Linked DNA regions of Homo sapiens: region 2 is linked to region 1. The links come from fine-mapping of genetic effects on gene expression. Tissue or cell type: cerebellar hemisphere. Region 1 holds a variant in brackets; the other region holds the start of a gene. All regions are shown on one strand. Distances are between the middles of the regions.

Region 1 (5,232 bases):
TTTTCTTTTTTTTTTTTTCTTTCACGGACAGAGTCTCCCTCCGTTGCCCAGGCTGGAGTGCAGTGGTGTGATCTCAGTTCACTGCAACCTCTGCCTCCTGGGTTCAAACAATTCTCCTGTCTGAGCCTCCCGAGTAGCTGCGACTACAGGCGCATGCTAATTTTTTGTATTTTAGTAGAGACGAGGGTTTCACTGTGTTGCCCAGGCTGGTCTTGAACTCCTGAGCTCAGGCAGTCCGCCCGCCTTGGCCTACCAAAGTGCTGGGATTACAAGCGTGAGCCACCGCGCCCGTCCCACTTCAGCTTTTAAGGAAATGGGAATTCAGAGAAGTGGAGGGACTTGATCCTAGTTATACTCTTCTGTCAGAAGTAGAACCCAAAATAGGATAAAGATCTTTAGATTCTGGGTTCAGTCTTTCTTCCACATTATCTGACATTCAATAATAATATATATTTGCTGGGTAGTCATCTTTAAAGAGTCTCAGTTTAATTGGGAAGAAAAGAATTACTTATTTTCCTTTCCAAAGAAATTGTTTTAACCATCAAGTATTAAAATTGACCATTTTTTCTAGGAAAGTCCTGAAGGAATTTGTTTTCATTAATAGAAAAAATATATGTAATTATAACAACTGTAAATAAATGTGCTTGAAAATTTGAAGATGACTGAATAACAAATCCTTTCATATTTATATTGTCCTGAATTTTTATTTTTTTATTAGCAAAGTAAAAGAGAAATTGCAGACTCATATGATAGTCACAGATTCTTTTTTTTTTTTTTTTTGAGATGGAGTCTCACTCTGTCACCCAGGCTGGAGTGCAGTGGCATGATCTCGGCTCACTGCAAGCTCCGCCTCCTGGGTTCACGCCATTCTCCTGCCTCAGCCTCCCTAGTAGCTGGGACTACAGGCGCCCGCCACCACGCCCCGCTAATTTTTTGTATTTTTAGTAGAGACGGGTTTCATCATGTTAGCCAGGATGGTCTCGATCTCCTGACTTCGTGATCCGCCCACCTCGGTCTCCCGAAATGCTGGGATTACAGGCATGAGCAACCATGCCTGGCCAGTCACAGATTCTTAAAACAATAAAGATAAAATTAATTGATTCATGTTATACGTAGCTGTAATCATTTTTTCTTAATAGCAAAGAAATGCTACTAAAGAGAGCAGAGATTTATATAAAAATGGAAGATGTATACCTACCCACTAGTAGCTTACAATCAAATAGTATTGGGAGCACTTGAAAAAGACATGTTATTCCATATTGAAAGCAAACTTAATAAATGTTATCCCTTTAATTATATATAAATTAATTCATATATAATTTATATCATATATGGCAAATTTAGTCTATAATTATATATACTAATTCATTTATACATATAAAAAACTACATAATTAAAAATAAGTATATGCATTTTCAGTAAGAAAAAAATCATTTGAGAGGAGAAAAAATAGAGAAATACCACATAGAGTAGTACTATAAGTAAGTGAGTTTGGAATTCTTAAGTCTGTGAGTATGGACACAAAAATTACTGAAATTTTTAATCCTTTTTATTTACTGAGGATTATTTTGGAAAACAAGATGATTCCAAGTTGGCAAAAATAAGCAATGTTCCAAAATAATCAGTAGATATGATTTCACCAGAAAATTATGAATGTGATTGGATAAGTATTGGGTATACTGGATTTGGTTAGGTTATAGAAGGTCTTCATGTTCAAGCTAAAGCATGGTGACTCCATTCTAAAATGTATGCTAGAGACAATTCAGATTCATCTAAAATGTATGAGACATAAAAATGCCATAAGGAAAAATCTGTTTTTAGAAGACTCTACTGGGTTGTGACCATGACATAAGACCCTTCCTTGGTACCTAATTAGTGAACAATAACTCTCAGTCATAATAATCATATTAGGAGAACTGTGTTTTTATCCTGGCTCTGCTACTAAGTCACTCATGAGCATAAACAACTCTACTTCTCTGAATCTCAGTTTACTAACATGTGAAATGGGAAGGTTAAATTAGATAATCCCAAGGAGTCATTTCAGGTTAAAAGTTCCTGAAATTCGTGTTGATCCAGATCCCAAGGAATGATGTCAGTGCGTAAGCAGTGTTTTCATCCCAACTCCCCGACCCCACAAAGAATAAAGCTAAATCAATTGTTCACGGTCCAGGTTGGATGCAATTATTTTGATCCAGTCTTTACTTAATTTTAAAAATTACAAAACATAAAAACAAACAAAATTTTCCCTAAGTGGTTCAATGCAGAACACTTGGGAAGTTAAGCATATATATATATATATATATATATATATATATATAATATTTTACAACGCAATTACATATTGACAAATTCAATGAAAAAGTAGACCATCTAAATATTTTAAGAGATTAAACTTCACATTCTCTGCAACTAGAAAAACAATAAGCTACTGCATATCAGTACATGACATTCAAATATATTTTAAAATGTACTTCCCCCTCTTAAAATGGCAGTGAGTATACATTAGTGCAACCACAAAGCACTTGTAAACTTTTTTCTGTTCAACATCATCCATGTCCATTAGAACAAATTCTGTTTGGCTGGCTCCAAGGCCTTTCTTGGGCCTGAGCTTTTCATGTTTTTCTGTGTTAACAGTTACAGCCTTTATCCATAACCGCAGCCATCCATCCAGAAATGCCCACCGTCTGAGGTTGGGAGAGCCGGTGGTATGTAGCTGAATTTGAAGAACTCTTACCTTTCTAAAATAAGAACATGGATTTGATTCAAAGATTCGAGACATAACTGTATACCATAAACAGATTTTTACTTATCACTTTTTAGGCAAGAATTTTTGCTAAACTGAGTAAGAGTCAGGCCGCTGGCAGTTTTAGTGTGATTTGTGAGTGCTCTCTCTGCCTCTCTAGAGCCCCTAGTGTCAGGTAAGGGAGATAAGAAAGGACGCATGTCAGAGTTGGCTGACTTCATATCTATCTGCCTTGCTTTTAAAATACCAATGAAAGGCTGATGTTTAACAAAAGGTGCTTTATAAAAGGATCTATACAGCTGAGTTTTAATCAAATAAGTTGTAGTTCTTAATATATTACAACTCTTGAGAGCTAGCAACATATCTGGCTTGTAACAGACTATGTAACAAGGCAAATGCTCTTCTCTTTTTTCATCAAGATTCGGTGTGTGGCTGTCAGAGGAAGTCATTAGCATGTGCAGTGGAGT[G/A]CTAACTAATTAACACAGATCTAATGAGAGGGCACTGACAGAAAGCAGCCTCTTTTCTTGAAATTCAAACATCATCTCAACTTGATTTTTTTTATCTTTCTGACAAGAAAAAGTACACCTTCCTTCAACACTAGGGAAACTCAAAATGTTTATTCATTAATTTCCATTCACCTCCCTTTAATTTACAGTATGTACGCTTTAACAATGACAGAAAAGTGAATTATCAAACTTCATTGATAAATACTGACATAACAGGTTAAATGTATTTCTTAAGCACTATGTATGTGTTCTTCCACATTCCTATCGTCTACTTCAGATCTGAAATGCTGGCTCCCTCCTGGTACTCCTCCTCTAAGCAGGCTCTTCAGCATAGAATAGCAACTCAAAGGCCAAACCTTCTTGCCCAAGGTGAAAGTGGTCAGGCTTCGATTCTTCTTTAGAAAATGCTGTGCGGGGTCTCATTGGATGGCCTTGTGAGATCCGACCAGATCACTTTTGGACAAAAAGAGGAGTCAAAGAGAACTTGGGTTTCCAGAAAAAAATAAAGTGCTGCCCCCTATAAATCAGTCTCTGTGGAATAGGTGTCTTCCTAAAGAGGTAGAAATAATAGGGGGTATGTGTTGCAGATGCCCATATTTCAATAATACTGAACACTGTATCTTTAAGGGTTGCATCTTTAGGGGTTTAAAATGGACTGACTCCACTCATCTCTCTGATTTTTTCATAAGTAAGCCAGAACACCATTGACCAAGGGGTCTGAAAGATTAACCAAAGAAGTTAGTGCATATTTCAAAGCAATTATAAATAGTCTACATATGTGCATACATATATTTGAATGACAAAGTCATTTTGCAACCACTTAGGCTGAAAACAAATATTTTGGTATTTCACCTTTGTAAAGGACTTTATAATTTACAAAGCATTTTTTATGTCTTATATATCACAGATTTCTCTAAACAACATCTTACAATAGAAAGGAAAGATATTAATATCCCTGATTTTCAGATGAGACCACTGAAGCTTAGCAGTCAAATGCCTGTTGACATGTTGTAGAGCTAGACCACAGGCTTCTGTTTTCCATTCTCAGAGTTCTTTTTATTGAACCATTACTGGCTAAAGGGCTGGGACTCAAGATGCCTGAATTCTAGGCAGGCTTTTCTATATCTAGTTTGTATATGGAGCATAAAAATAAGTCACTTTAGAACTTGAAAGTGAGGAAGGTGAAAGATTATCCATGGAGATTTAGGTCATAAAACCAACACCTGATGTCTCACAACATTTATATAAAAATTCACATTAAATAGAAAAAAGCCCTTCCAGTTCAGAAAGGCTTGTCTTTAACTTGAATGAAGGTATGGCTACATCTAAAGGAATTATAAAAGAATAAGGGTTAGAAGAGGACATAAATGCTAAAGATGTAAACTGTAAAGACACAGAGGGAAATCACAGGGTAAACACTGGAACAGAGAAAGAGTGCCTTGGATCTAATAATTCCTGCCTAATTCAGTTCTAATCAAAATTGAACAGAGAGTAGCTCTATCATTCTAGAGTAGATAAATAAGCTTAAGCAATTAGAAAATCAAATGTATTTGGTTTTGTTTGTAAAGCAAGGTTTATCTCATATTTGTTTGGAAATACTGAGCATGCTATATTAGTAAACTGAGAATTCACTAAATAGTGGATTTAGGAGAATATATCTTGGTTATTTAAAGGTATGATGACATAGATGAAATAAGGAATATAAAGCTACGATGATACCATATTCTTGTAATAAAAATGAAGTAAACCAATATACTTGGAGTTGGATGAAGAAGGTAGAGGTCTTAGTTAAGAACCCCTATGCAATCATTCTTAATTGCTGTGGTAATCAATCTTCTTCATGTTAATGACATTATAGCAACAAAATCCATAGGCAAATGAAATAAGTACTAACCAGGGACTGAGCAAAGCAAGGTCATAGTACCTCTACCCAGTAGAAGGGATCAGGATAGAGTTTAGCTAGATTTTGAATAGAGTTTTTAA
Region 2 (5,232 bases), 25 kb after region 1:
GCTAACAAAAACACAAATGCAGGGAAAAACCCACAACATTCAGAGAAACAAACAAAAATCTAAAATCATAGGAGTAATATTTTCCCAAGACTGGTTGTTCTCAAATTTTAGAATATATCAGAATCAGCTAGGGAGATTTTAAAAATTAGAAATTTCCTAGCCCCGTGCCCATGGATTCTAATTCAGTAGGTTGAAGAGGGTTTAGAAACTTGATTCTCACACAGTCCCAAATTTAAGAATCACTACGCAAGAGCATCCTGGATCACTAGCAAAAAAAAAAAAAAAAAAAAAAAAAAAAAAAAAAAAAACAAACATTAACAATAAAAATTAAAATGACAAGCCTTGGGTTCTTTCTATTCAGAAATTTAACTTTAATATCTGTTAGTCATTAATTTTTGCTTTTCAATGGGAAATAATTTAAAGTACCATATTGTGTGCTATCCTCTTGACTGCAGCCATGATTATTTGAGATCTAATGTAACATTAGAATACTGCACTATATATTCTTATGTACTATAACAAATGCTAGATGAAGCTGAACTCTATAATTTCGTGGGTGATGTTCACATGCAGATGAATGACTGACATAATGTTTGAGATACAGAAGATGTAATGGAGTTTATAATGTTGTCTTTTATATGCAAGGGTCATAAGCTCAATATCCTTTCAATTAAAGCATATATGGAATTATTTTTCCAGCACTAAATTATATGCATCGCCTACTCATGGCCTCCTTACAAGTACTAACTGTATTTTGGAAAAATTTTTTGGTTTTAAGTTTTAAATTAGATACAGACCTTTTACCTTAATACAGTTAAGCTAAACGGCCTACATAAGGAAGATAGAGCTCATAACCTTATACAGAAAACGTCCTGAATAATTAAAATAATAACATTCAGACAAGTTCATGAACATTACTTACATTATATAAGACTTTTCAATGACCACCACCTGACACAAAACCTTAGTATACCTTTTCCAAGAGAAAACAATGTGGGGAAGGGAAGTGAATATTAAATCTTACCACTGGTTTTTGGAAAAGTTAGTATCTTGCTGACAGTTTCCCTAGAACAGAAGTAGCTTGCATAGACTTCAAGCAATATTTTATTGACATATGAAACCTGAAAAATCTTAATAGATTTCTCCATATTACACAGATTATGTCTTTCAAAATAAGTTTTGTTTTCTCGCTGGTTTGTTAAATGATGCTTCAGGTTCCTGAAGTGGTTTGTACTTAAAACCATCCCACATTTTGATTCCCATCCATTCTCCACACACAATTCTCTCCATGAATTTTTAACGAGGAATAGTCCTGTATAAAAGCCATTGAGTCAGAGGGGGACACATCAATTAAAAATAAAACCTGGAAATATCATTCAGCAATCTGCTTTTAGATCTTTTTAAGCTGATGAATTTTATTTCAGTAAAAACAATGAAAAGTAAAAATTCTCCATCATTTTCGAAAGGAGAGACATTAAAAAATAGAGGGGCTAAAAGGCAAAAATGGAAGAGCACGAAACAACTGATCATGGCTGGCTATGCTAGAATTAAAAAATAAACTCTTAAAATAGGACCAACTAACATTTACAAATGATAACGCATCAGAACTGTTCTTTTTATTTTTTTGTAACAGGCAAGAAAATGTAAGGGTAATCTTAAAATACACAGTTAAGGCTTCACAGGAAACACATGAGTATACTACTCACAAAATCCTTGGAATAAACGCTACTTGCTCATTCAAGGGCATCATCATTCCACTCTAGATGGCCTCTTAAAGTTTTTTCTTACTCATGTAGGCAGATGTAACTGCTCTTCTATGCTTTTATGACACCTAATAATATCTTCATTATAACAAGTAGCACATTATAATTGTCTTTCTCTGTCTCCCCAGCAGCCTGTAAGAAGGTCAGAACTGGGTCTTTTCAAATATATATCCACAGTCCCTGGTATTGTAGGAATTATAAAAATGTCGCAACTAATGGGTGTCCTGCCTTGGGTTTAGCAATCATATATTATTGACTTCTCAGAATCCTGCAAGGTAAACAGTATAGATGAATTACACTCAAAGAGGTCAAGTAGTCGATGCTCTGTGAGTGGCAGGTTAATAACGGAAGTCCCACAAGGTAGGTCCACAACTTGGACCCACAAGATAATGACAGTGTGGCTGTGTAAGACTATAAACCACAGAGATGATCTCAGTAAGGATGGAAAACAGATTACGTTTTTAAAAAGGTCATCCTCATGAAAAGGAAAATGATTCCTACAGAGGAATGACAGCTCGCGAAGCTTCTTAAAGTACAACATTCAAGCACCACAGCACATGCCTAAGGGAAGCATTAGAAGAGATTAGAAGGAAAAGGCCGTGGAGACCTCAATCCCTCCTCCTCCCACCGCGGGCCTGGCCTCCACCGCCACCTCTGCCAGGCGGGCATGGAAGGGGCGACCTCTCCGATGCGCACTGCCGGGCGCGAAGCCGCCCGCGCACCCTCCCCCAGCGCGGCGCGTGCCACTGGCCCGGGAGGCCCAGGCGTGGGCAGCCGGGTACCTAGCTCGGCCACGGTAGCCGCGCAGCCGGACAGTAGGAATTTGCTCGCTCGGGGCCATCTCTGGGTCAGCGGCAAAAGCCTCTCCTCCTCCTCCGGGACGGACATTCAGCAGTAGCGCAAGACGATAACGCACTCCTTCTCGCCGCTGCGCTGCACCGCGCCGCGGCGGCCGCTTCCCTGCCAGGGCGGCCCCTTTTCAACCGGCGAGTGGCCGGGTGAGGACCATTTCCCTCGTTCGGCTCGGCCGGGTGGACCCGCAACCTTCCTAGCAGTCCCAGCTGGAGTGGTCCAGCTGCCCCTTACACCCCAGAATAGAAAAACACAGCGGAGCCCAGGAGGTTACTGGGCAATGTAGTCCGCCGGGCTCCGCTACGTCTCTGATTGGCCGGCCGCGGGTCCCTCTGCGGCTCCGCCCCCGGCCTCCATGGCAACGCGGCTGGTTCTCGCCCGTCAGTCCTAGCCCGGCCCTGCCCCTCCTTGCATTTTTTCCGCGCTGGCTGAGATTCAAAGAGAAGTGGAGGTGGGAGGGAGCGACAATGGAAAAATCACCTGAAAACTGGGACAGAGGAAGGAAGCTACAGTTACGAAGGAGAGCTGCAAAAGTTGCAGCAGAAAGGTTGGGAGTCCCGACAGGTTCCGTAGCCCACAGAAAAGAAGCAAGGGACGGCAGGACTGTTTCACACTTTTCTGCTTCTGGAAGGTGCTGGACAAAAACATGGAACTAATTTCCCCAACAGTGATTATAATCCTGGGTTGCCTTGCTCTGTTCTTACTCCTTCAGCGGAAGAATTTGCGTAGACCCCCGTGCATCAAGGGCTGGATTCCTTGGATTGGAGTTGGATTTGAGTTTGGGAAAGCCCCTCTAGAATTTATAGAGAAAGCAAGAATCAAGGTATGTGGTCGTGGCAGACGGGGTCTCCAGAGGAGACAATGCTTTCTTTTTTAAACTTTCTTTCATTGACTCTTAAGTGCAGGGCTAGAACACGGGGAACATACCTGCTTGCCTCAACTAAAGGATCTAGTCATTTCTGAATTCCTCTACTAACAATTAACAACAATATCCTGTGCAAAATTTTGCGAAAGAAATGAAATACAATTGCAGCGTGCATCGACATTTTTGGAAGTAGAGATTAACTTTTCGTATTTTTACTTCATCGAAGTTAAGTTCCAAATGTGTATGTGTTAAGTAAATGTTTTCAGTAATTGGGAAAGATAAAGTGTAATCCAATTTAAGTTTGTGAAAATGAGTAATTCGTATCCAAATTGGAGTTAACACCAAAGTATTGTACAAATTGCTTGCACAGTTGGTCCGTACACAATAAACAGGCTCTGTATTTTTAGCTGACGTTGTTATTTGATGATGATGTACTCCATTTTCACTACGGCCTGAAGAGACTAGTAATCCTCCTTGTAGTAGATGTTTTTGTCTTGAAAGTATCTTTTAAATGTCTGAGCACTTTAAGGAACAGACCTTTATTAATGTCTTTTAAGTTTTATTCAATTTCCAGTCACAAATATTTTATGGTATTTGATTGTCTAATAAATTTGTATGATATTATAATTATTCTTATGAATTATAATACTTTCTGTGGTGACCCATTTTCCATCTGGTTAGCCCAATTTGTAGAATGAATTTATACGTAGTAGCATTATTTTACCACTGATCATTTGCCTTCAAAATCTCTGAGATTCCAATTTAGTAAAAAACATATAGAAAATTAAAGAGAACTAAGATGAAAATAAAAATAACCCAGAATATCACACCAGCTGTACTGTAAAAATTTAGTGTATTTATATTATTTTGGTCATTTTCCTATGTATTTACAACTATTTAATGAACAACAATGGAATAATAGTATAATACTCTTTTATGTGCTTTTGATTTTAACATATAATGTGAATGACTTTCCTGTACCATGAAATACTTTGAATCTTCCTTTTATGGCTATATTTTGTCATAGGAGGATACAATAGTTTACTTAAATCTCAATAGTTGGGTTTATAGGTTGCTGCCAAACTTTTTTCTTTCAGCCAGTGCTTCAGTGAACATTCTTGCGTGTTTGTGTGCATGTATTGATTGTGTGGTTGTACATTTTGCAATTATCTGATTGTTTACTCAGAATAAATTCCTAGGAGTAGAATTGCTGAGTCAAAGGACATGCACACTTAAATTGTTTATATGAATGTGTTACTTTTGGAAAAAGAAGTATGAATATGCAATTTTTATTTTCCATTGACTGTATGCAATTGCCTAACTTCTCAAATCCTGGGCCATACTGAATACCATAATTCTTTGCAATTTTTGCTAGTCTGATAGATGAAACATTATATCTCCTAAAGAAATACTCCTTTGTCTCCCACAGCCTTCCTTATGCATATGATCTTGATAATTTTTAAGGAACTGTTTTTTTACAAGCTTGTGTCAGAAGGCTAAATATTTGTGAGGTCTCTATTGCTTTCCTGACTAAACAAAACAAGTTATTGCTGGACTCTGTGTCTCACACCTGTAATCCCAACACTTTGGGAGGCAGGGGTGGGAGGATTGCTTGAGGCCAGGAATTTAAGACCAGCCCGGGAGATATAGCAAGACCTCATTTCTACAAAAACTAAATAGAAAAATAAAAAATTTAATCTGGTCCAGTGGCACATGCCTGTAGTCCCAGCTCCTCGAGAGGCTGAGGCGGGA

What was found. PIP is the estimated chance that this variant, and not a neighbour inherited with it, causes the effect.
Region 2: SLC25A27 starts here. The variant in region 1 is fine-mapped to the expression of SLC25A27 in cerebellar hemisphere (GTEx, PIP above 0.99). The same link has a PIP of 0.9 or more in anterior cingulate cortex, atrial appendage, caudate, cerebral cortex, nucleus accumbens and pancreas.

Annotation. Positions count from the first base shown.
Region 1 is chr6:46,675,117-46,680,348 of GRCh38, reverse strand. It overlaps SLC25A27 (solute carrier family 25 member 27), which reads right to left. Exons shown (of 9, transcript NM_004277.5): 9 at 2,159-3,966. The coding sequence ends at 3,895. All of the region lies in intron 1 of TDRD6-AS1 (TDRD6 and SLC25A27 antisense RNA 1), which reads left to right. It also overlaps a transcript of TDRD6 not described here. Among named protein-coding and RNA genes, the nearest start is that of TDRD6, 10 kb to the left of the region's middle. The variant G/A (reference allele first, on the strand shown) is at 3,211.
Region 2 is chr6:46,650,612-46,655,843 of GRCh38, reverse strand. SLC25A27 (solute carrier family 25 member 27) reads right to left here and starts at 2,869. Exons shown (of 9, transcript NM_004277.5): 1 at 2,546-2,869; 2 at 1. The coding sequence starts at 2,651. It overlaps CYP39A1 (cytochrome P450 family 39 subfamily A member 1), which reads left to right and starts at 3,026. Exons shown (of 12, transcript NM_016593.5): 1 at 3,026-3,438. The coding sequence starts at 3,262. RefSeq lists silencers at 2,432-2,531, 2,962-3,051 and enhancers at 2,712-2,841, 3,072-3,121.